Linked DNA regions of Homo sapiens. The protein of the gene in region 2 interacts with the protein of the main gene of each other region in a pairwise test. Each region holds a gene or a part of one and is shown on either strand. Other genes may lie near its edges. The genes, in order: CLCA1, KCNMB1 and STX8.

Region 1 (7,545 bases), on a different chromosome or scaffold from region 2:
TCGTGTTAGGAGCAGAAATGCTTCACCATTTTATGGGGAAGCAGCACTTGGGTGTTAGTGCACGGGTAAGTCCTGCTGTGCCTCTTCCTAAGGGGTAAACTTAAAGAACTTATTTTACTTCTCTGAGCCTCAATTTCTCCCTTTCAAATAGTGATAATAATGGTTGCCTCTATTTTTTTAAGTGTTCTTAATGATTTACATTTTCTCCTTCTAAAACTCCCAGATTTTTAACACTCACTAGGAGAGTTTAATATTATGTCACTTTAAAAAATAAAATTAAAAAATGAGCCAAGATCACCAAAAACTTGAAAAGTAGGTATAAAACTTCATATATTAGAGTATTGTTTTACCATTTGACTTGTGAAATGTGAATTTCCAATGTCTCCCAGGAAGAATAAGTACCATGAAATGCTCTTGTCTTCCACATTGTAATAGAAACAATAATAAGGGATCTTTGTTTTGGCATCTGTTTCAGATTTTCAGAAAATGACCTCATATCCTAATACATATTTAGACTCTTAGGCTGAGAGAAGGTTGGGGGTGACAGTTTATAGAATGGGCTAGAAATTCCTTCAGGACAGGGACAGTATATTGACCACTGGACTTCTAGTACCTGACATAATTTAGATGCTCTGTAAATATTTGTTGAATGAATAAACAAACAAATGGATAAATAAAGTGGGTTTAGTAAATGGCAAAGTGGTATAGAACTGCCAAGACAGGCACAGTGCCTGGGGTGCTGAGCATTGCAGAGACTCCAAAATAACCCTACTGTGTACCTTCTGACGTGCGTGTGTGCGTGTATGTCTGCGTGTGTGCATGGGCGTGTGTGTGTGCACACGAGCTTGTGCGTGTGGTGTGTGTGTATGTATATTTGACGGGGGAAGAGAGAGTTTCTCTCTGACTCTCCCTTCCTCATCTTGTGACGTGTACTCCCCCTGCTAATATTAGCAAGAATGCAGTGGATGGAAGTGGTGCAGAGCGATTAACTGCTCTTGTAGGTGGGGAAATCTGGGGACTGTCCTGCTGAAGCAAATATTTTAAAAGCTGAGTTAGGGGCTTCTGTCCCCACAGGGGCACCAGGGGAGAGTCTCTCATCAGCAAGAAGGTTGTTGGAGTAGAGGGAGGAATGGTTGGGAAAGGTGGCCAAGCCCTCAACGAGGTCCCTCAACTCTGCAGATCTGGAACATCAAATAGGAAGGAGTTAGGGACTTTGAGCATTCTATTCACTAAAGTGTTCTTGTTACAGAGAAGGAAATGATGGAAGCCAACTTATCTCACCCCCAACTTTAGGATCCATACTGGAAAGACAATTTAATAATTGTAGCGAGAAGTACGTATCTCGGGAGGAAAACCTCCAAGGACAATGAAGTAGAAGCACTTTGAAAGCTCTAGTCACTATATACTGTAGATACAAATTACCACGGTCACTGAAGATGAATACGGCATCTACATTCTCCTTCTGGCATATTGCTGAACCCCACTGTCTAGCCAGAGACTGAAACACACTGGTCACATGTTTGCTGATGCCACTTCCAAATTTAGAAACAATCAAAAACTCACTCAACATTTTAGATGATTGAGAGATTCAAGAGGTCTGAATCTCCCTTTTACCACAGACAGCCTGATCCTCTTTGGGTTAAGTAGGTAAGCTTTATGGTGAGTGACACCCTCCACTCTGTTCCCTATCCCTATCCCCTACTGCTGCAATTCTCTAACCACACACTGTAGAGATGGTTTTCTTTCCAAACATTATCTTTCTATATTTGCCTCTGCTTAGAGCAGTGGATCTCTGGGGAAATCCCTCTGGGCCCTTGTTCTATTAATTTTCCATCTAGAGAGAGCCAATGACTATATCCACCATTTATTGAGCTCTTACTATGTACCAGGCACTATGCATGCATTTTTAAAGTTATTTTTTAAAGTTCTGAGATAAATTTAGATGAACAGAAGACATGCAAAGTATTGCACCGTATTCTTACATACTCCACCCAGCTTCCCTTTATATGCATGCATTTTAAACTTTGATCCTCACAAAATCTGATAAGGGAGATATTTATTATTATTATTCCCATTTTACAGACTAATACTGTTACTAGTACAGCACTGCCTCTGGATGTGTTACAGCCAGATTCCAGGGCGGTCTTTTATAAAGCATTTCCCTCTTAGTTTTAGCTGTTTGTTGTTGTACAAGACCTTCTTCAATGGTATAGATACCCCTGCCAGGACAGGAAGTCTTCTTCCTTTCCCTTCTGCTACATAAGAGGTAGCAAGAAATCTCTGAAAGGATCCCTTGAATTGGGACTGATAAAATGCAAGGTTTTCTCCCATCAGAAGGTCAGGGTTGTTCTTATATCAGAGATTTGCATCTGGGGCTCCTTTTAGGATCACAGGGAAGGGGGTTCCTATTAGGAGAATAAAAGGAGAGTCTGACTCGTGCCAAGGGTAAAATCAGGCAAAGGATCTGTGCATCTCACAATATCTGTCAAATGTAGCTGACTCTGCCTTACTATAGAACTAAATAATTTTCAGTGACATAATCCACAGCAGTACATATCAATTTATCATTTATCAGTTGCCAACAGTATATCACTCTGAGTTATGTGCATTGCATTCATTATCTTATCTGACACAAGAATCCTAATGGTTAACTTGTTATTATTTCCATTTTACAGATGAAGAAACTGAGACTTAGACATAAAAATACATGCCAGTGTCGTGCAGCTGGAATAGGGCACTCATGTTCTCTCTATCACAACATTATGCTATTTTTAAAAAAGTATGGATAATTACTATGAACTTACCTTTATTTGTTGAATGAGTGTTTCATCTTCTGGCACATTGGGGTCGATTGCAACGACAATGCCTTCATAGCCATTGTTGTTCAGCTGAATGAGTGAATTACTCAGGGCCCCTTCTAGAAGGTGAAGAATCAAGATGAACACAGAACTCTTAAATGGCCCCATTGCTGTACATCTCCCTGTGATTTCTCTCTTTGGAAAATGCGGGTTACGAAGGTGTCTTTCTTTACCATTATATATATACAGATATGAAAATATAGACACACGTTTCCAACTTATCGGAAGTGGTTTATCACAGGTCTTTAACCCCCTGACCTGATGTGTTTTACTATTGCTCTTGTCTTCAATAGGAGAATGATAACAATATCTTAGTCTCAAATTGCGTACTTGTAAATATTTCCATCTGCCTTCAGCTGTGCCAGATGCTGGGGTAAGGGTGGGGGAGCCCACATCCGGTTCCTTGGAAGCACTCACAGGTGACAAGCAGCTTGGCCGCTGATAGGTTTGTTTACTTCTTGGAAATGTTTACCAAGCCATGGACACCAACCCACCCAAAGCCCCCAACCCCCTCCTGCCCAGGAAAATCCAGACTGTTCTGCTTATTCAGTAAACATTTTGTAAGCCATATATTCAGTTATCCCTCATGGTGGTCTTTACCACAATGGTGGTTTTGTTTACCTTGACATAACCTCAACACCTCTTCATGCTCCCCTTAAACAAGAAAATATTCAATTATATTCCACATCCATTTGTACCAAAAGCATTAGCAAGTGATGTAGATATTATTGACTATTTTATAATGGAGAGTAAAGATAAAATGTATATCTTACTTTGCAAAGCATACTCCAAGTTCCTCATCAGATTTCTGCTTTCTCTATTGCATAGCTCCTACCAGTCAATAAAATTCCAATTAACATCATTAAATTATTTTGCTGAAACTAAATGTCCCTAGGAACATGAATTATGGGCTGTCAGTGGCTGTGTATATTCTTTCAATTTGCCAAACCTCAGGTGGAACCTCAAATTGGCCCCCCATTTTCTTGTATTGAAATACTTGAAATATCTCTTCGTTCATAAATTCATTTGGTCTTCAGATGGTGATAAGCATTAATTTCATCTTGTCCATATGAACTTTAAAGTAGTTTTTTCCAATTCTGTGAAGAAAGGCATTGGTAGCTTGATGGAGATGGCATTGAATCTGTAAATTACCTTGGGCAGTATGGCCATTTTCACGATATTGATTCTTCCTATCCATGAGCATGAAATGTTCTTCCATTTGTTTGTATCCTCTTTTATTTCCTTGAGCAGTGGTTTGTAGTTCTCCTTGAAGAGGTCCTTCACGTCCCTTGTAAGTTGGATTCCTAGGTATTTTATTCTCTTTGAAGCAATTGTGAATGGGAGTTCACTCATGATTTGGCTCTCTGTTTGTCTGTTGTTGGTGTATAAGAATGCTTGTGATTTTTGTACATTGATTTTGTATCCTGAGACTTTGCTGAAGTTGCTTATCAGCTTAAGGAGATTTTGGGCTGAGACAATGGGGTTTTCTAGATATACAATCATGTCATCTGCAAACAGGGACAATTTGACTTCCTCTTTTCCTAATTGAATACCCTTTATATCTAGCATAATCTTAAGCAGTTAAAAGGGAAACACTGAAATAGAGTGGAAATGCTCAATTATAATGTGGTTGTCCAGATGATCCAAAATATGCTTTTATATCAAAATACATATACATTTATTATTCATACAAAATTTAAAAATGTAGATTCCAAGATATCTCAGACCCCAAATGTATGTGTCTTTGCCTGGGTTCCCTAAAAAACAGAGCCTAAGGCAGGCATATGTGCTAAGAGTTTGAGAGTTTAATCCCAGAGCAGTGAGAATGAGGGAATGGGGAAATGAGTCAGGGAAGGCTGGGAAGCAACTAAAGGAGGAGCATTACTAAGCCCTGCAATGGAGACACCCAGCAGGCCAGCCCACAGGCGCCCTTGCCTTCCTGTGTGGGTTGTCTCCTAAGGGGCTGTGCAAAGAAACCACGCCTTGGAGCAGCCCTTTGGAGAGAGGAAGGAAAAGCGTTTGGCTCCTTCTCATCTTCTACAGGTGATCATCTCCCCCCAGACTTCCTGGCTGTGTCATCCAGCCCTTTCGGCAGTCGCTTAGAAAGAGAGACCCCCATGCCTTGTGGTATGTGAGGAGCCAGGGGTTACAAGAGGTGGCAGCTTGACCTCAGGCAGTGGAACTGCTTGGACCTGCAAGGAGTGGATAGTGACTGAGGTGGAGCAAATGACTGAGTGCCCGGTAGACAGATGGAACCAAGCAAATCTGAGGAGGTTCAATAAGAAGAGTCTGATACAGTTCACTCTGAGCTGCTCAGATTCACTCTAGTACTTTCATCATATCAAGCTCCAATATTATAATGTAGGATTTGTGTTTCTGTGTGTGTGAGCACTAGCTGTCTCACTTTTCCCCTGAGAGAAGGTACAAGTTTAATCATTTACAGAATCTCCTTCAAAGTGGTGGTCAATTGCAATCTGCTCAAGTGCATAAGGCAAGAAGGTTATTGAAATAAATTGCAATGCCTGCTGTTACAGCTGGTCTCAAGGCTTTTATAATCTCCCTCCTTTATCACCTATTTCCCTCACTTTTACTCAGCATTTTGGTTGATCTGTATTGTTTGTTCTCTTGTTGGGGTAATCCCACCCTTCATCCCTGAGTGGGGTCTTTAGTTGTCCTGCCCTTGTTGGCTGCAGCTGCTGCATTTCCCTATGACAGAGGTCATCTGGTGTGACAGACTCAGTTTAAGTGCTCTCCAAATTTGCTTGGCATTCCCTGCAAGCTGGGTCTTGGCTGCTTGCTCAGTGGAGAGTCCTGGCTGCTGCTAAAATTCACACATCTCCTAATACCAGTGTTTCTTCTTAGCTTTCCCCAGGAAGAGGGCCTAGTTTAGCATGGCCTTCACTGTGCAGATTGTGGGGGCAGCTCCTCCATTCTCTCCCGTTCCCAAGTCTGGATTGAATGGATGTGTGGAGGCTTTTGGCTCAGATAAATCACTGCACCATGGTACTGGGATCTGGCTTTGTCAGAGGCAGCCCAAATGGGCCAAATAACAGAAACCAGAGATGCAGGGAGTTAGCACCCTAAGGGACAACCTTTCACCAAAGAATATTTCCAGCATTCTAGAAGTTTCCTTTGCATTCCCTTCCAGTAAATCCCCCCAAAAGATAATTGCTATTCTGACTTCTATGCCACATAGGTTAATTTTGCCTGTTTTTGAACTTCATATAAACAGAAATATGCTGTATGTACTCTTGCATTTCGCTATTGTGACATAACATTTTCTATATGAGATTCAGCCAAGTTGTTGAATGTAGCAGTAATATGTTCTTTTTCCATTCCATTCCACTGTAAAAAATACTGCAATTTACTTACCACCCACTCTTGATGAACATTTGGACTATTTCCAGTTTGGGACTATTATGAATGAAGATGCCATAGATGTAAGCATTGATTTCAGTTGCAAATATACAAAGAGTGACATTGCTGGGTGACAGGGTATACATCTATCTAGTGACAAAGACTCCCTCCTTTGACCAAAACTTAAGTCAGGATCCTGAGTCTTCTCTGACTAGGTCTGACCTTGGGCTTCCCTCTCTGTCCTTGCAGAATCCAGTTTGAGCAAGAATCCTGCTAAGTCAGTTTAGGGAAAATCCCCACGTTTGGTATCTGACCATTCTCAGCATCTTTCCACCATGGCCTGCCTTCAGCAATAACCCTATCAAGTCAGTTTAGCCAGACATTCCTTATCCTTGATGTTTCCTCATAGGCATTTTTCATCCACTGACCCCACCCTTCTCCTTGGTTATAAATTCCCACTTGTCCTTATTGGAGTTGGAGTTAATCTACTTTCTCTCCCCAACTGCAAGACCTCCTTGCAATGGTCCTTGTACCTATCACCATGCCTCCCACCCCTTACCATCTTTAACAAGTGTTTGCATGAAGTTTTTCTTTGATACTAGATTATGTTGATCTCCCAAATACTTTTCAAGTGGTTGTACAAGTTATTCCACATTTCCACCAGTACATTGTACTGTCAGTCTTTCTAACTATCCATTTTCTTGGGAGTGTAGTCATATCGTTCTGTGGTTTTGATTTGCATTTTCCCTAATGGCTAATGTTGTTAAAGACCTTTTTATATACATATTGGTCTTTTGTGAAGTATCTCTTCAAGTTTTTTTTTTTGCACAATTTTTAATTAAATTGTCTTTTCTTATTGATTTATGGGAGTTCTTTATATGTTCTGGATACTGAGTCTTTTGTATTGAAAGATATATTGAAAATATTTTCTCCTAGTTTGTAGCTTGCCTTAATAGTATCATTAGATGAATAGAGATTTTTAATTTTAGTACAGTCCAATTTAATCTTTTATGTATAATGTTTTTGTGTCATATTTAAGACAGCTTTCCCAAATTCATGAAGATATTATACAATATATGATTCTAGAAGCCTTGCTGCTTGACCTTTAACATTTAGGTATACTGATTGATCTCAAAATATTTTTGTGTATGGTGTGAGGAAAGGTTCAAGGTTTTTGTTTTGTTTTGTTTTCCTCTGTGATAGCCAGTAAGTTGAGAGTATTTATTGAAAAGACCATAATTTCCCCTACTGAATTACAGTTGTGCTTTTGTTGTGCATGAGGTGACTACAGATGTGCAGGTCTGCTTCTGAACTCTCTGTTCTGTTCCTT
Region 2 (7,991 bases):
GGTGCTCCCAGCATGCGGAAGCAGAGCTTCCGCCTGGCCCAGGAGGCGCGGAGAGTGGCTAAGGGGCTGGGGGCGAGGGAAGGCCCCAGCGGGGAGTCCTGTGGAAGAGGAAGAGCTGGCCAGGAGGCAAGGACAGAGGAGACATGTGCCATGGAAGGAGAGGGCACATGCTTCCTTTATGTGTGTTGAAAAGGCCACCACCACTCTTACAGCAACTCTCTCTGAGCAGTGAGGCTAACACTGTACCTCATCTTCTCCCTGCACTTCCACATCATGCCACTTTCCCACAGAGCTGGGATGATTTGCACTAAGGAAAAAGCATTTTTTTAAAAAAACCAACCTTACCACACAGACAGACAGCAGGGCTGTTTATTTATTTATGCTCCTCTTTGTCTCAAAGAGGATTTTCAAGGTGCTTACAATTATGTTAACAGCATGGCAGGATAAAGGAAGAAAAATCAGGCCAAGGGAAAATATGGTGAAAAGAGTCAGAGGAAAAAGGAGTGAGTATCACCCTACACAGCAGGGAACAACTTTACCATGTTTTTTGTCGTGTCTTGTTGTGTGACCATTTAATTGTAATATCGGCATTTACTTTTGCTGTTGTTATACTTTGTCATCTCAACTCTACTAAAAAACCTCCCACCGTTATTTCCTCTGCCTTTTATTACTGTCTCTCATTTAAAACACATCTTTCACTTTCTGTTCTGTATTTTTGTAGTTGAGGAAATCTGGCATCGCTTTTCTGCAGTGAAGGGACCGTGTCTGAGTCACCTCGGCACAGTGGTGTATCCAGAGCCTCTGCATAGCAAGTGCTGGGATGTCTGTGAACGCACAGCTTCGCTAGGACTGAGAGTGACTAACACCCATCCCTGCAGCACTCAGAGAGGCACACACAGGGGCTCAAGACTCAGTTGCCAATTTGATTTATGGGACTTATTATCCCAAGTGTCAGCAGAGAGGAGATATTGATTCAGAAAGACTTAAATAAACAAGCAGGTGCATAATCCAGAGAGGGGTACAGACTGAGCTGAGGGTGTCTGGAAAGCAGTGGAAGCAGACATCATGAAGAAACCTGGGGTCTCTTGAAAACTGCTCCCAAGGGAGTCATGGGGTGACAGAGGGGCAGGGACGGGCTGTGGAGTCAGCGGGCACAGGTGCACTCCAGGCTCCATCACATCACACGCTAGGGGCGTGACCTTGGGAAAATCACTTTGCCTTGTGCTTTTACAGAAAGAACAAGGCCTTTTGTGGGGGATTGTGGAGAGGAATGTCCATGTGTATGTGTATGTGTATGTATTGCATATCTATGTGGTCATTCCCTGGTACATAGTAGGTGCTTCATAAACAAAAATACCCTCCCATATCACTGCCCTTCTATTCCATTTGTGCCATAGTGTGTGACCTAAGAGTAGATAAAGCACTTTTTTTGTTTGTTTGTTTTGGTTTAGATGGAGTCTCACTCTGTCGCCCAGGCTGGAGTACAGTGGCTCAATCTCAGCTCACTGCGACCTCCGCCTCCTGGATTCAAGTGATTTTCATGCCTCGGCTTCCCAGAATAGCTGGGATTATAGGCACCTGCCATCGTGCCCAGCTAATTTTTGTATTTTTAGTAGAAACGGGGTTTCGCCATGTTGGCCAGGCTGGTCTCGAACTACTGGCCTCAAATGAACCGCCTGCCTTGGTCTCGAAAAGTGCTAGGATTACAGGCATGAGCCACCATGCCCTACCTAGATAAAGCATTTCTAAACTCTCCTGTAACACTCCATATAGCAATCTCAGGTGTTTTAATTCTCACTGGTTTAATCCTACCACTATCACCAGCAACTGTAACAGTCCCCCTTTGAAATCACTTGCAAGTGTGTTCCAGTTACTATGACTGCATAACAAATTACCCCAAAACGCAGGGGCATGAAACATTAGTTTTTTTCTTCTCGTGGATTTTGTGGCTCTGGAATTCAGAGAGAGCACAGAGCAGGTGGGCTGTCTCTGCTCCACATTCTCTGAGGCCTCAGCTGGGAGGCTGGCAGGCTGGGGGCTGGAACTGTCTGCAGGCTTGTTCTCTCCCATGCCCGGTGAGATTTGCTAGCTGTTGGCTGAGATCTGAGCTGAGGCTGTCAGCTGGAGCACGGGGCCTCGGCTTCCTACAACATGGTGGCTGGTTCCCAGGTACATGTCCCGAGAGCGTGTGGGGGGAACTCGAGCCCCCGTCTATGACTTAGCCTTGAACATCGTGCTGTGTCCTTCTACCATATTCTACTATTGAGGCCCTTACGAAGCTCCACCCAGGGTGAAGGGGAAGAGACATCAATGCCCCTCTTGATGGTGGAGTGTTGATGCCACACTGTGAAAAGGGCACATGGAATGGGAAGTATTTGGTGTGACCATCTTTGGAAAGGACAATCTCCATACTATGTGTCAGGTAGCTTAGGTGATCTCTCATTCCTCAAAAACACTGAGGGGCTAGGTATAATTATCTCTATTTTAGAGACAGACAAACTGAAGCTTAGAGAGGCAAAGTAACTTGCTTGGGCAATTTATTTCACCTCTCTGAGGCTCAGTTACTCCCTCTATCAAATGGGTAGAAAAATCTCCACCTCAGTGGTCTATTGTGAGCCTATTGTGCTAGTACCTTAAGAAGCTGTTGGAAGAGTCAGAGAAGATATTTTGTGATCTCTGACACCCCGTACTAATGCAAACCGTCAATATTTATTGTTGCAGCATTGTTATTTTCTTGCCCTCCACCTGTAGCCATCTGTCACACACAACCCCGCAGCCAGCAAAGGACCTGGGTTTTCACCCACAAACCCTCGAGGACAGGGCTTGTCAATGCCTTTTGGTTGTGGCTCATTTAGGGGGAGCAGAAGACCCCACGGCCCCCCTTCCCTGTTTGTTCCCACCTTCCCTTGGGAAGAATGCTAAAGTTTGTTTATGATTTCCAAATAATATGTAGCCCTTAATAACTTATTCAGAGTATCACGAGCAAGGAGCCCTTCGGTTATACTCATAAATGGCAGCCTGTTGCACTGTGTATCTCTCCCCCAGGGAAGCAGGAGGGGGGCCTGGCATTTCTGGATTAGCCCCAGGAGGACTTTTCCTGCTTCTGAGTGGACAGAGGATCATCCTTGGAAAATTGCTCTTCTGAGATTGAATTCCAGATCCTACATCCCTCTGTCAATCTGCCTGCAAGGTCTGAAGCTGGTCTTAGACCCTCTGGTGCTATGGTGCCCATTAAACAGACACTGTAGTCTCCTGTTAATAAGATTCAATTAGGAAAGGGGTGGAGAAGGGCACTCACCGCCTGAGAGTGTGTCAGGGAGGCCTGAGTGGCTGCCTTCATTTCGCGCCTGCTGGAGGCAGGAGGGAGGAAGGTGGTGAGCTCGCTCAGCAGGGAAGGCCAGGCTGCACCCACCTCCCTGGGGGCTGGGGAAACTCAGGGTGACCTCCAGAGCCTCAGGTGGCAGCTTACTGTATGATCGAGGTGATTTTTAATGTCTCAGAGCAGCCCCAGGGTCATCAGAGACAGACCAAGCTGTGCCATCTGGAAGGGCCAGCTTCGAATCTAGTTCTGGCCCCTAGGGTTGCACCAGTGACTTCAAGCCTCCAAGTCTCAGTTTCAGGTTCTTTGATTCTTGGGTCAAGTGAAGGGTGGAGATAAGCTGCCTTCTACCACCACGCCTGATACTTAGGAAAGCCCCAATATCTGGGATTGTTTTTGTTGTTTTGTTGAAAATATATATATATATATATATATTTGTTTTTTTTTTTTGAGACGGGGTCTCGCTCTGTTCAGGCTAGAGTGCAGTGGCACAATCTTGACTCACTGCAACCTCCGCCTCCCAGGTTCAAGCGATTCTCCTGCCTCAGCCTCCCAAGTAGCTGGGACCACAGGCATGCACCACTATGCCCGACTAATTTTTGTATTTTTAGTAGAGATGGGGTTTCGCCATGTTGCCCAGGATGGTCTCAAACTCCTGGGCTTGAGCAATCCATCTACCTTGGCATCCCAAAGTGCTGGGATTATGGGCGTGGGCCACTGTGCCTGCCCTTTGTTGCTGATTTTTAATCCTTACTTCCACTTTACAGATGAAGAAGCAGAGATCTAAAAGCATGTTTTTTGCCTGCAAATGCTGACATTCACTTGTCTTATTGCTAGGAAGAAATCTCTGTACTTTCGCGGTCTCTGGGAGGGCCCCTGGTGAGCAGACTGTCCCTGGACCTGGTTGGAAGCAGTTGTGGAGCTCTCACTACTCCCAGCTTCAGCTCAGTTGGTCCTTAAAAAGTCAGTTCTCTCCCCTTGCCATAAATCCCCACCGTCTCTAACTCCCATCACTACCCTAAAGCAAAGTAGGTTTTAAAAATGCCAGTAACACAAGTGAGAAAACTGAGGTCATTTAACGATAAGTTTGGGAGTAAAACCAAAAACAAAAAAGGAAACTGAGGCCCAGAGAGGTGCCATAACTTGCTCAGGGTCACACAGCACGTAAGTGCCAAAGGCAGGGAGCTGTAGCTGCTCCAGCGTGGATATGCCAGGGACTAGTGACAAGCCCAACCCCTCCAGCCCAACTCCACCCTTCCTCATGCCAACAAAAGGAGAATCATTTCCTATTTCTGGCATCTTTGCCAGCCCACAGAGACAGAGAGAAGAAGAAATATTTCCAAATATACCAGGCTGATCTTTCGTAGTTTCTCAGTCTTGCTGTCTGTTGTTGTTTGAAATCTGTTTCCCACGAGACTCTGGGAAGATGGAGGTGCAGGGCTTGGGTAACAGCTGCCTTCCTCAGGGCTGGGTACCTGCTCTCCGAGTCTGTGTCTCCAGGCTGTGTGCTCAGACTTGACCATGTTTGGGCATGGAGGCTTGCCCCAGATGGGGACCAAAAGCTGCTTCCCTGGAGACGGGCGGGGAGGCCAAACTTCCTGCTGAAGCTCTGTGGCCTCTTTTGGGGTGGGGGCGGGGGTCCAGGCAGAAAGAAACTGTCTGCTGCTCAAGACCCACAGGACGCCGGGAAGACTGTGAGTACCGGGCCTGAAAGCACTTGGGAAGTGATTTCTCTGAAGACCGGGCTGGAGGGAGACAGGGGAAAGCAGCCTGCCACGGGGCAGGGAGGGAGGCAGGCAGGAGGACTCCCTTCCTCTCGGGGCTGTCCTTCTGGATGGAGGGCCCGTGGTCTGGTGGCCAGTGGGGAGGGTGGCACAGTGGCCAGGTTACTCTGGTAGTAAGCGCCCTGGCCCTCTAGGTCCCAGTTCTCAGAGTGGCCAGAAGGCTGCAGCCTGGAGATTAACACCAATGCTGGCACTTGTCACCGGTAGAGAGGTGGGACAAAAATAGATTCATCAAGAGGGGTCCAGACTTCTGCTCCAAACTTTCAGGGTTTCCTTCGTTAGTAGTAATAGCTAATATTTACTGGGGGCTGATTTGGGGCTAGGTGCTATGATACATGTCTGATACTCAATATGGCATTTGATCTTTAGCTGAACTCTCTGAGGCAGGTACCATGGTTCTCGTTTCACAGTCATGTGGTTGCTAAGTGTAAGTGGCAGAGCCAGGATTTGATTCCATGTCTGAGGACCTCAGAATCGCCCTGTCCACACCCCACCAAACTGTTCAACAATGTACTCTATTCCTTGTCCTTCTAAGGAAAAGGATGTCGACCCAGCTATCAGGTCACCCAGGACACTCCAAAGTCCTGCCTTCCTTTGTCCTTCTCCATCTTCTCTGAATCTATCCCAGATCTCAAGTGACCTTTCTAAATGGGAAGATATATCCTGGAACTTCAGAGATATTTAGAAATGCTCAAAACTGGGAAGTTCTTCTTACAGTCTAACTGAAATCCCTCCTATGATAGCTGAAACCCACTTCTTCCTTTTCTTTCTGTCCCTTGGGGGATATTGACAGTTCCCATCCTTCCTCCCGCCAAAGGTTCTCCCTTTGGATGCTGAATACTAACTTCTTGCTGAAGTCATATCTACACTGAACCCCACGCATGGTCTTAGGAGGATTTATCATGACTCTATAAACTCACTCAGTGCAGGCAACAATCTCATCAGACCATTAGAGACGGGTCAGACCTGAATAAGCCAAGTTTCCAGACTTCTCTGTGACAGGGAAGCCTCTCCTTTCCTTTCCTTCTGAGCTCCTAAAACTGGTAAAACCAGGTTCCTGCCTTCACCAGCCTCAGGAGTGCCCAGGGGCCTGAGAGGGCACTAGAAGCCAAATAGCAGAGGAGGCCATGGCCCTGGGCGCTGGGGGGGGCTGATTAGCCAGGAAGGAGCCACAGGAAGCCCCCACAGGTGCGATCCAGTTCCCCCAGGAGAGAAATGGCTTTGTTGTGGGCACTCAGCCCTAGGCTTCCAAGATGGGATTTCCCATTGGCTTCAAATGATTTATGTCTCACAGTATCTGGGGTGGGGCCAAGTGCCAGTGACCCTTGCAGGTCCTGGGGAAGCAGGCTGTTGGGGCTTTTAGCTTACCTCCAGGTGATTCTGTTGCTTTACCTGTGAATACATGGAGAGTCTTGTTCAACTGACGCCAGGTAGAAAAAGGCATGGGCTCTCCCATTCCCACAAGATCACAGAACAGGAGGAAAAGGATTGAATAAAAAGAGTTGAATAAAACATCTCTCTTTGTCGGGGGCAATTTCTGCTTGCTTGTGCTTTTATAATGTCTCCATTAGAATGCAGGAGAAACTCACCTCCTGGTGCCAAATAAAGGAGAAAAAGTTGTCATTGGATGTCACCTCTGCCGATCGATAGGGGAGGTGGACCAGCTCACTGGGAAGGTGTGATGGGTATCCGTGGTGCCTGACCCTGGTCTCTTCCCTTTAGCGGAGATGCCCGGGTATGAGGGCAGCCTGGCTAAGGGGAGGGAGTCAAGAATCTCTGAATATTTGAAACAGTCTAGTAGTTAAGAGACGCCTGAGCAGAAAATAGAGCACTTTGCAGAAAATCTCTTTGGACTAAGGCCTGTCACCCGGACACTGGCTAATTAAACAAACAAAAACCATAATATGTTTATTACTTTAGGGACCTGGCAAGGAGAATAAAGTCCCCCTGATATCTGGCTAAAATTTCCCCTAAATTCCCCTAAAATTTCCCCTAAAATGGAGGATTACATTGATAGCTTCCTGGTATTTTTGGTAGAAATGGACTCTGGTTACTTTAAACAAATAAAAACAACAGCAAATAAATTTACCAGAGGCTCTAGGACAGCTTGCGGAACCATGGGAAATCACGCGGGGACCATGGCTGGGCATCTCTGTGGCTCCAGGCGGCATAGATTGAGGGGCTGTTTCTTGAAGTCTTTGTCAAGACTCACACTCCTGGGGGAGCGATCAGGAGCCTAGCAGGGGAGGGTGGAATCTTTGCTTGCATTGGGGTGGAGTCAATGTCCAGGGGAAAAACAAGGAGTTGCTGCCTAAAGAAAGAGGAGAGAAGGAAAGCAACCACCAGCAGAATGTGCCCATTCTGCTTTGTCCCAGGTGGCTTCAAGCCCTGAAATAAGAAAGCAGTCGCTGAGGCCACCATGATGCCTTCTTTCTTCTTTCTTTGCTTGAAGTAGGGGAATGTTCCTTACAAAAAAAAAAAACACCGGAATATGGTAAACCTCCTGCCTCTCCTGACAACCTGCAGCTGCCTTCTGGGGCCCTCCTCTCCTTTCCCTGCCTGTGCCCGGCCCAGCTAGCCCTGCCACAGAACTGTTTCTGGGCAGAAATACTCCAAGTATCCCTGTGAGATAAGTGCCGTGGAAGGAGGTGCATGGATGATGCACATGTACTGCTCGCTCACCGCATGGGACCTATGACTGTTGTAGCAAATGATCATAAACCTGACGGCCTCAAACGACAGAAATTTCACCAGAAGTCCAAAATCACCAAGGTGTCTGCAGGCTGCACTCCCTGCAGTGGCCGTGGGGGATGAGCCATTGTTCCTTGCCCCCGCCAGCTTCTGACGCACTCCTTGGCCTGTGGTCACATCACTCTAATTGCTGTCTC
Region 3 (7,106 bases), on a different chromosome or scaffold from region 2:
GAGGTCAGGAGATCGAGACCATCCTGACTAATACGGTGAAACCCCATCTCTACTAAAAATACAAAAAATTAGTCGGGCACGGTGGCGGTGGGCGCCTGTAATCCCAACTACTTGGGAGGCTGAGGCAGTAGAATGGTGGAAACCTGGGAGGTGGAGCTTGCAGAGAGCCAAGATCACGCCACTGCACTCCAGCCTGGGTGACAGAGCGAGACTCTGTCTCAAACAAACAAACAAAAATTAACGAAAACTAAATTGAGTAGAAAATTATAGTCAAACACCATAAATGAATAGAATAGATTTTGATTAATTCCTAAAGTAAGCCATTCAGGAAACAGCTGTAGTATCTGCAAAGAAGTCTTCGCCCACCAAGTAATCCCTGTAAATAAAAACATCCTACCTGATTAGATCTGGTTCGGCACCCTCATTCTTAAAGGATGCCAGAAGTAGTCTCTCTCGAGTTACAAGATCATCCAAGAGGTTCTGTCTTCGGTCCCCTTCAAGCTGTGTTCTGCAGATATCTTGTTAAGGTTCAATGGTGAATAAATGACCTCGTTTTAACTATTACATTATTAAGTTAGCTCTTCAAGTCAGTTGTGGCTTTTACAGACTGTAATCACTACTACCCAGAAGGGATGCGCACCACTCTTGCGTTTTTCCTGCTCTGACCTTCACCTTCACCAGGCCGTCAGGTAAAGGACCTTGGCAGGACCATCGCAGAGGCACTTATAAACACTGACGTGGATCATGACACAAGTTTTTCATTGAGAAATATACCAGGTAAATATTACTTTCCTCCCCGTGACCAAACTTATTTACTTATTTTTGAGACAGAGTCTCGCTCTGTCGCCCAGGCTGGAGTGCAATGGCGCGATCTCGGCCCACTGCAACCTCTGCCTCCCGGGTTCAAGCAGTTCTCCTGCCTCAGCCTCCCGAGTAGCTGGGCTTACAGACGTGCACCACCACAACCGGCTAAGTTTTGTATTTTTATTAGAGACGGGTTTTTGCCATGCTGGCCAGGCTGGTCTCGAACTCATGACCTCAGGTGATCTGCCTGCCTTGGCCTCCCAAAGTGCTGGAATTACAAGGCGTGAGTCACCACGCCCAGCCCCAGTGACCAAATTTAAATGACTTCTCCTGCCAATGGTGCAACCTGGCTCAGTGATTCCTTAGGTTTTGAGTTATATGTGTGTGTCAGTGTTCCAGGGCATTTTCCTACATATTAATACCCTAAGATGCTCTGTTTAAAAAAGTGGGGGCGCTGGGGGAGAGAAGTTCTCTATATTGCTCTCTTTCTTCCATGTTAATATCTATTAACACACCTAGGATATTTATAAAGTGCTACTTTATGCAACAGATTTGCTCTATAAATTGTTACCATCAGTTCACTATTTAAATACATTGCATGATTTGTAAAGAAAATTACAAAGAGAATCATTTTAATGTGTGAATCTAGCAAACACGCTAGACTAGGAGCCCCAGAGGCAGAGTTGTAGCCCTATTCCACTATCTATGCTCTTGAACCAGTTATTTCACCTTTTGGGATCTCTCTTTCTTTATATGTAACACTAAATAGTCTCTAACATCTTTTCCACAACAATTCATAAGTGATGGTTAAAAAAAAAAAACCAAACAACCATCCTTCTGGGAAATGTAGTCTTTGGAAAGAAACCTACAATTCACCAATAGGTGGACGAGAATGCGGCGCGTGCGCATGAAGCAAAAAGGGAAGTGGCGTCTGTCAACAACCGGCGCCACTTCCCTTGGACTAAGTACAAAGTTTTATATACTAGCTTTCTTGATGCAAACTACAAAAGTGGTTTTTTTTTTTTTTTTTTTTTTTTGGAGACGGAGCCTTGTTCTGTCTACAGGCTGGAGTGCAGTGGCGCGATCTCGGCTCACTGCAACCTCCGCCACCCGGGTTCAAGCGATTCTCCTGCCTCAGCCTCCTGAGTAGCTGGGACTACAGGCACGTGCCACCACGCGCAGCTAATTTTTTGTATTTTTGGTAGAGACAGGTTTTCACCATGTTGGCCAGGATGGTCTCGATCTCTTGACCTCATGATCCGTTCACCTCAGCCTCCCAAAGTGCTGGGATTACAGGTGTGAGCCAGTGCGCCCAGACACAAGTTTTTGTTTGTTTGTTTTTAGGCTGAACTGTGTCTATGTGTGTGGTATGTTAAGAAACACAGAAGGGCTGGACGCGGTGGCTCAACGCCTGTAATCCCAGCACTCTGGGAGGCTGAAGTGGGCGGATCACAAGGTCAAGAGATGGAAACCATCCTGGCAAACACGGTAAAACCCCGTCTCTACTAAAAATATAAAAACTAGCCAGGCGTGGTGGCGTGCGCCTGTAGTCCCAGCTACTCGGGAGGCTGAGGCAGGAAAATCGCTTGAACCCGGGAGGCGGAGGTTGCAGTGAGCCGAGATCGCGCCACTGCGCTCCAGCCTGGTGAAAGAGCGAGACTCTGTCTCAAAAAAAAAAAAAAAAAAAAGAAAAAAGAAACACAGTAAAGGATATGTTTGGAAACAACTTCTGCCATAAAATGAATGAGTGGAGAAAGCTAACAAACACTTTTAAAATATATCTGGCCAGGTGTGGTGGCTTACGCCTGTAATCCCAGCAGGTCAAGGCAGGTGGATCACGAGGTCAGGAGTTCGAGACCAGCCTGACCAATATGGTGAAACCCCATCTCTACTAAAAACACAAAAATTAGCTGGGCATGGTGGCGCACAATCGCAGCTACGCAGGAGGCTGAGGCAGGAGAATCACTTGAACCCGGGAGGCGGAGGTTGCAGTGAGCCGAGACTGTGCCACTGCACTCCAGCCTGGGTGACAGAGCAAGACTCCGTCTCAAAAAAAAAAAAGAAAAAAGAAAAGAAAAGAAAAGAAATACACACTAAAACAAGATACCACTTCCACCTATCAGATTAGGAAACTGAGAAGACAGTTTTGGAAAGGGACAAGGAACCAGACACTCTCATACATTCTTTCCTTTTCTTTTCTTTTCTTTTTTTTTTTTTTGTTTTGTTTTGTTAAGATGGAGTCTTGCTCTATCATCCCAGGCTGAAATGCAGTGTTGCAACCTTGGCTCACTGCAACCTCCACTACCTGGGTTCAAGCAATTCTCCTCTCAGCTCCCCAAGTAGCAGGGATTACAGGTGTCCACCACCACACCCAGCTAATTTTTGTGGGTTTTTTTGAGAGACAGGATTTCACCATGTTGGCCAGGCTGGTCTCAAACTCCTAATCTAAAGTGACCCTCCTGCCTCCCAAAGTGCTGGGATTACAAGCATGAGCCACTTCACCTGACCTTATACATTCTTTCTTTATTATTATTATTATTTTTTGAGACAGTGTCTCCCTCTGTCGCCCAGCCTGGAGTGCAGTGGCATGATCTTGGCTCACTGCAACCTCCAGCTCCAGAGTTTAAGCAATTCTCCTGCCTCAGCCTCCCAAGTAGCTGGGATTACATGCACATGCCACCATGCCCAGCTAATTTTTGTGTTTTCAGTAGAGATGGGGTTTCACCATGTTGTCCAGGCTGGTCTCGAACTCCTGACCTCAAGTGATCCACCCACCTCGGCCTCCCAAAGTGCTGGGATTACAGGCATGAGCCACCATACCCGGCCACCTCATACATTCTTGATAGGAATGCAAACAGGTTCAACCAACTGCTAGACTGCCTTCTAAATACCTAACAAAATATAAAAGGTACAGTCTTTCAACAGACATTTCTTCCTCAGATACAGTCCTACAAGGACTTAGAAGCAAGGATGTCCACTGAACCATTATTTATAATAGCCACATTGGAAATATCAATAAGTAACTAGTGTATGTAAACAATGGAATGTTTTGCAGCCTTAAAAAAAGAATAGGAAAGCTGTTTAGGGGGCTGATAATGATAATTAACATTTTTGAGCACTTACTAAGTGTTTACATGAATTATTTGACATGGAATAATCTACAAAATATAACATTAAACCAAAGGAGGGGAAAAAAACAGCAGCAGCAAGGAGCTAAACAGTGAGTAGTGTGCTCCCACTTTGTTAAAAAAAAATCCTAACTATATATGTGTGTATATACACACAGAAAATTTCTGATATATAAACATTGCCTCTAAGGAAGGACAACTGAGGATTAAGGGTATAAGAGAGACTGATGTTTCACTGAATATTGTTTCCTAATGTTTGTCTCTATCATCTGCTAATTAATAAAAACACAAGCTTCAGAACCATATGTATAATATAATCCCTTTATAGTCAAAGGAATTTTATGTTTACATATGCATATATTTCAAGCCTAGAAAAGTCTGAGATACTAGCTACCAACCATTAACACTTAACTATAAAGAATGAGATGAGACAGGATAGAATAAGGAAGAGAAAGAGGAGTCATTGGTAATAACTAATGAGAAATGTATCAGTAGAAAGTATAATATTTTTTGTAATAAAAACAATAAAGGTACATTTTAAAATCAGCAGATACTAGTTACAGATTTAAACTTACGTCAAGAAGGAGCTAACAAAGAACATCAGTTTCAGAAACAGTAAAACTTGATGACTATGTTTTGTAGATGAGTAACCAAAGAACAGAAACCCACACAGTTGATGCTAGAAGAGGCCTTAAAGATCCCAGTTCTCTTGTTTTGCTGACCAGAAATTAAGGGTGAGCATGGCTAAGTCACTTGCCTGGGTTAACAGCCATGCTAGGTGACAGCTCTTTCAACCCTAGCTCATGGCTTTTCCACCAAACATTCTGCAGACTTCTCCACCTTGAGATGCTGACTTAACTTTGCCACTTCTTAGAATCCTGATAAAAACAATACTGGGAGTACGAATTCAGAATATTCCCAGAGACTCTGTAAATCTGGAAAACAATCCAATTAGGAACATGCTGCCTCTTTGTTTTATATTTTAATCTACGGAGAGAACAGAGCATAAGGAGATGGGGAGGAGGGAGATGGAATGAGAATAAATTGATTAATGAACCATCTGCATAGCACCCTTGCTATGTAAGGGTTGTTATTAGTAAGAGGTCAAAGGATCATCCAGGAAACAATCTATACAGCATGTATGTGGACAGGTGCGTAGCAGTTGGGTAAAGTAGGGTAGTGGGGAAACAGTGTGCCTGAGTGATGCTAAGGACAAGTAGAAAGTAGGACACACAGGCCAAGCGCGGTGGCTCAAGCCTGTAATCCCAGCACTTTGGAAGGCTGAGGCAGGCGGATCATGAGGTCAGGAGTTCGAGACCAGCCTGGACAACACGGTGAAACCCCATCTGTACTAAAAAAATACAAAAATTAGCTGGGTGTGGTGGCACACGCCTGTAGTCCCAGCTACTCAGGAGGCTGAGGCAGGAGAATCGCTGGAACCCGGGAGGCAGAGGTTGCAGTGAGCCAAGATCGTGCCACTGCACTCCAGCCTGGGCAACAAAGTGAGACTCCATCTCAAAAAAAAAAAAAAGTAGTACAGCACACAGTCAGTGGCCAGTGCTGGGGAACCTCCTCTTCCACCAACCTGGTGAATAGCCAAGGAAGAAGATAAGAGAACAGACAGATAAAGAAAAGGAAGAGAAGAGCTAACTATCATAGTACTTTGTCCTTGGCTATGCTGATTGTACATGTAATTATAGCCAATTCATGGATATGTAAGGTTGTAAATAAAACTGGATCCCCTGTAGTCCCAGCTACTCGGGAGGCTAAGGCAGGAGAATGGCGTGAACCCGGGAGGTGGAGCTTGCAGTGAGCCAAGATCGTGCCACTGCACTCGAGCCTGGGTGACACAGCGAGACTCCATCTCAAAAAATAAATAAATAAAAATAAAAATAAAACTGGATCCTGATTTCATATTACTGATACCTACTACCAGCATGCATAAGTCCAGCTTCTCTGCTGTAGCCTGGTGAGCATTTGAACCACAGATGGAGCGGGGTAAATATGCAACTGGATCCACAGGTCACCCAATCCCACTCCAGCTCCTGGATTTTCTCTTATATTTGGTAGAAGGCTTAAGAATTTAGGCTGGGCACAGTCGCTCACACCTGTAATCCCAGCACTTTGGGATGTTGAGGTGGGTGAATCACCTGAGGTCAGGAGTTTGAGACCAGCCTGGCCAACATGGCAAAACCCCATCTCTACCAAAAACACAAAAATTAGCCAGGTGTAGTGGTGCACACCTGTAATCCCAGGTACTTGGGAGGCTGGGGTAGGAGAATCGCTTGAACCTGTGAGGCGGTGGTTGCAGTGAGCTGAGATCGCACCATTGTGCTCCAGACTGGGCAACAAGAGTGAAACTCCGTCTCAAAAAAAAATAGAATTTAGGTAAGCCTTATTTTGTGAAAGAGCTGCTCTGGCGAAGGAAGAAGTTTGCAGATAATTAATTCTCCATGCCAAAAAAGAAGAACTGCAAGGGAACAGTTTAAGGTTCTAGAGGTCAAAAGACTTTTCTGGCTTTCTTTTTTTAAGTCAACAAACTCTAATAAATATTTATGATGTACCAGGCCAAGTCCTTACCTTCCTCAAAGCACTGATCACATTTTGCAAGTACTATTTTAATACCATCATTGTTTGTGAGTTTTGACATAACCATCATGCATGATTAAAAACTCCACAAAGAAAGGATGACCTGTAAATTCTCAATGGTAGCTGAAATCTTTACAATAATGATAAAATAATCAATAGCAGCTAATCCTCAAGGAGGACTTAGTATATGTGAAGCACCCTGTATGCATATAATCTCATCCTTACACAACAATCCTTTACGCCAGGTGGACTTCTAGCATCCCATTCCACAAATGAGGCACAAAGAGGTTAAGTAACTTCCCCAGGGGTGTTGGTAACCACCTTTTATTCAACACCCACCATTATGGGGGGCTAGTCCTGTGAAGAAAAAAGATTTTCTTCAACTTGTACAATAACCTGGCAAAGTATGATTATTCCTACATTACAGATAATGAAACTAAGGTCCAGAAAAGCTGAACTGCTGTTTGGCCTTGGTAAGTGGCAGAGCTGGTCTTCAATCTCAGTTCTGTCTGCTTTCAGAGCCGATGTTGTTCCCACGATACCAATGGCACCTAGACATTCAGGTTTCGTGGACCAGTAATATGT

The links.
Region 1: the proteins of KCNMB1 (region 2) and CLCA1 interact in a two-hybrid assay, tested with the Homo sapiens proteins (one study listed by BioGRID).
Region 3: the proteins of KCNMB1 (region 2) and STX8 interact in binary tests that used the Homo sapiens proteins (3 or more experiments, as listed by UniProt).

The regions. Positions count from the first base shown.
Region 1 is NC_000001.11:86,464,393-86,471,937, reverse strand, and holds the start of CLCA1 (calcium-activated chloride channel regulator 1 precursor), read right to left. Parts: upstream 3,012-7,545; 5' UTR 2,967-3,011; coding exon 2,805-2,966; intron 1-2,804. UniProt on the Homo sapiens protein: May be involved in mediating calcium-activated chloride conductance. May play critical roles in goblet cell metaplasia, mucus hypersecretion, cystic fibrosis and AHR. May be involved in the regulation of mucus production and/or secretion by goblet cells.
Region 2 is NC_000005.10:170,386,281-170,394,271, reverse strand, and holds the start of KCNMB1 (calcium-activated potassium channel subunit beta-1), read left to right. Parts: upstream 1-4,904; 5' UTR 4,905-5,013; intron 5,014-7,991. UniProt on the Homo sapiens protein: Regulatory subunit of the calcium activated potassium KCNMA1 (maxiK) channel. Modulates the calcium sensitivity and gating kinetics of KCNMA1, thereby contributing to KCNMA1 channel diversity.
Region 3 is NC_000017.11:9,544,775-9,551,880, forward strand, and holds part of STX8 (syntaxin-8), read right to left. Parts: intron 509-7,106; coding exon 398-508; intron 1-397. UniProt on the Homo sapiens protein: Vesicle trafficking protein that functions in the early secretory pathway, possibly by mediating retrograde transport from cis-Golgi membranes to the ER.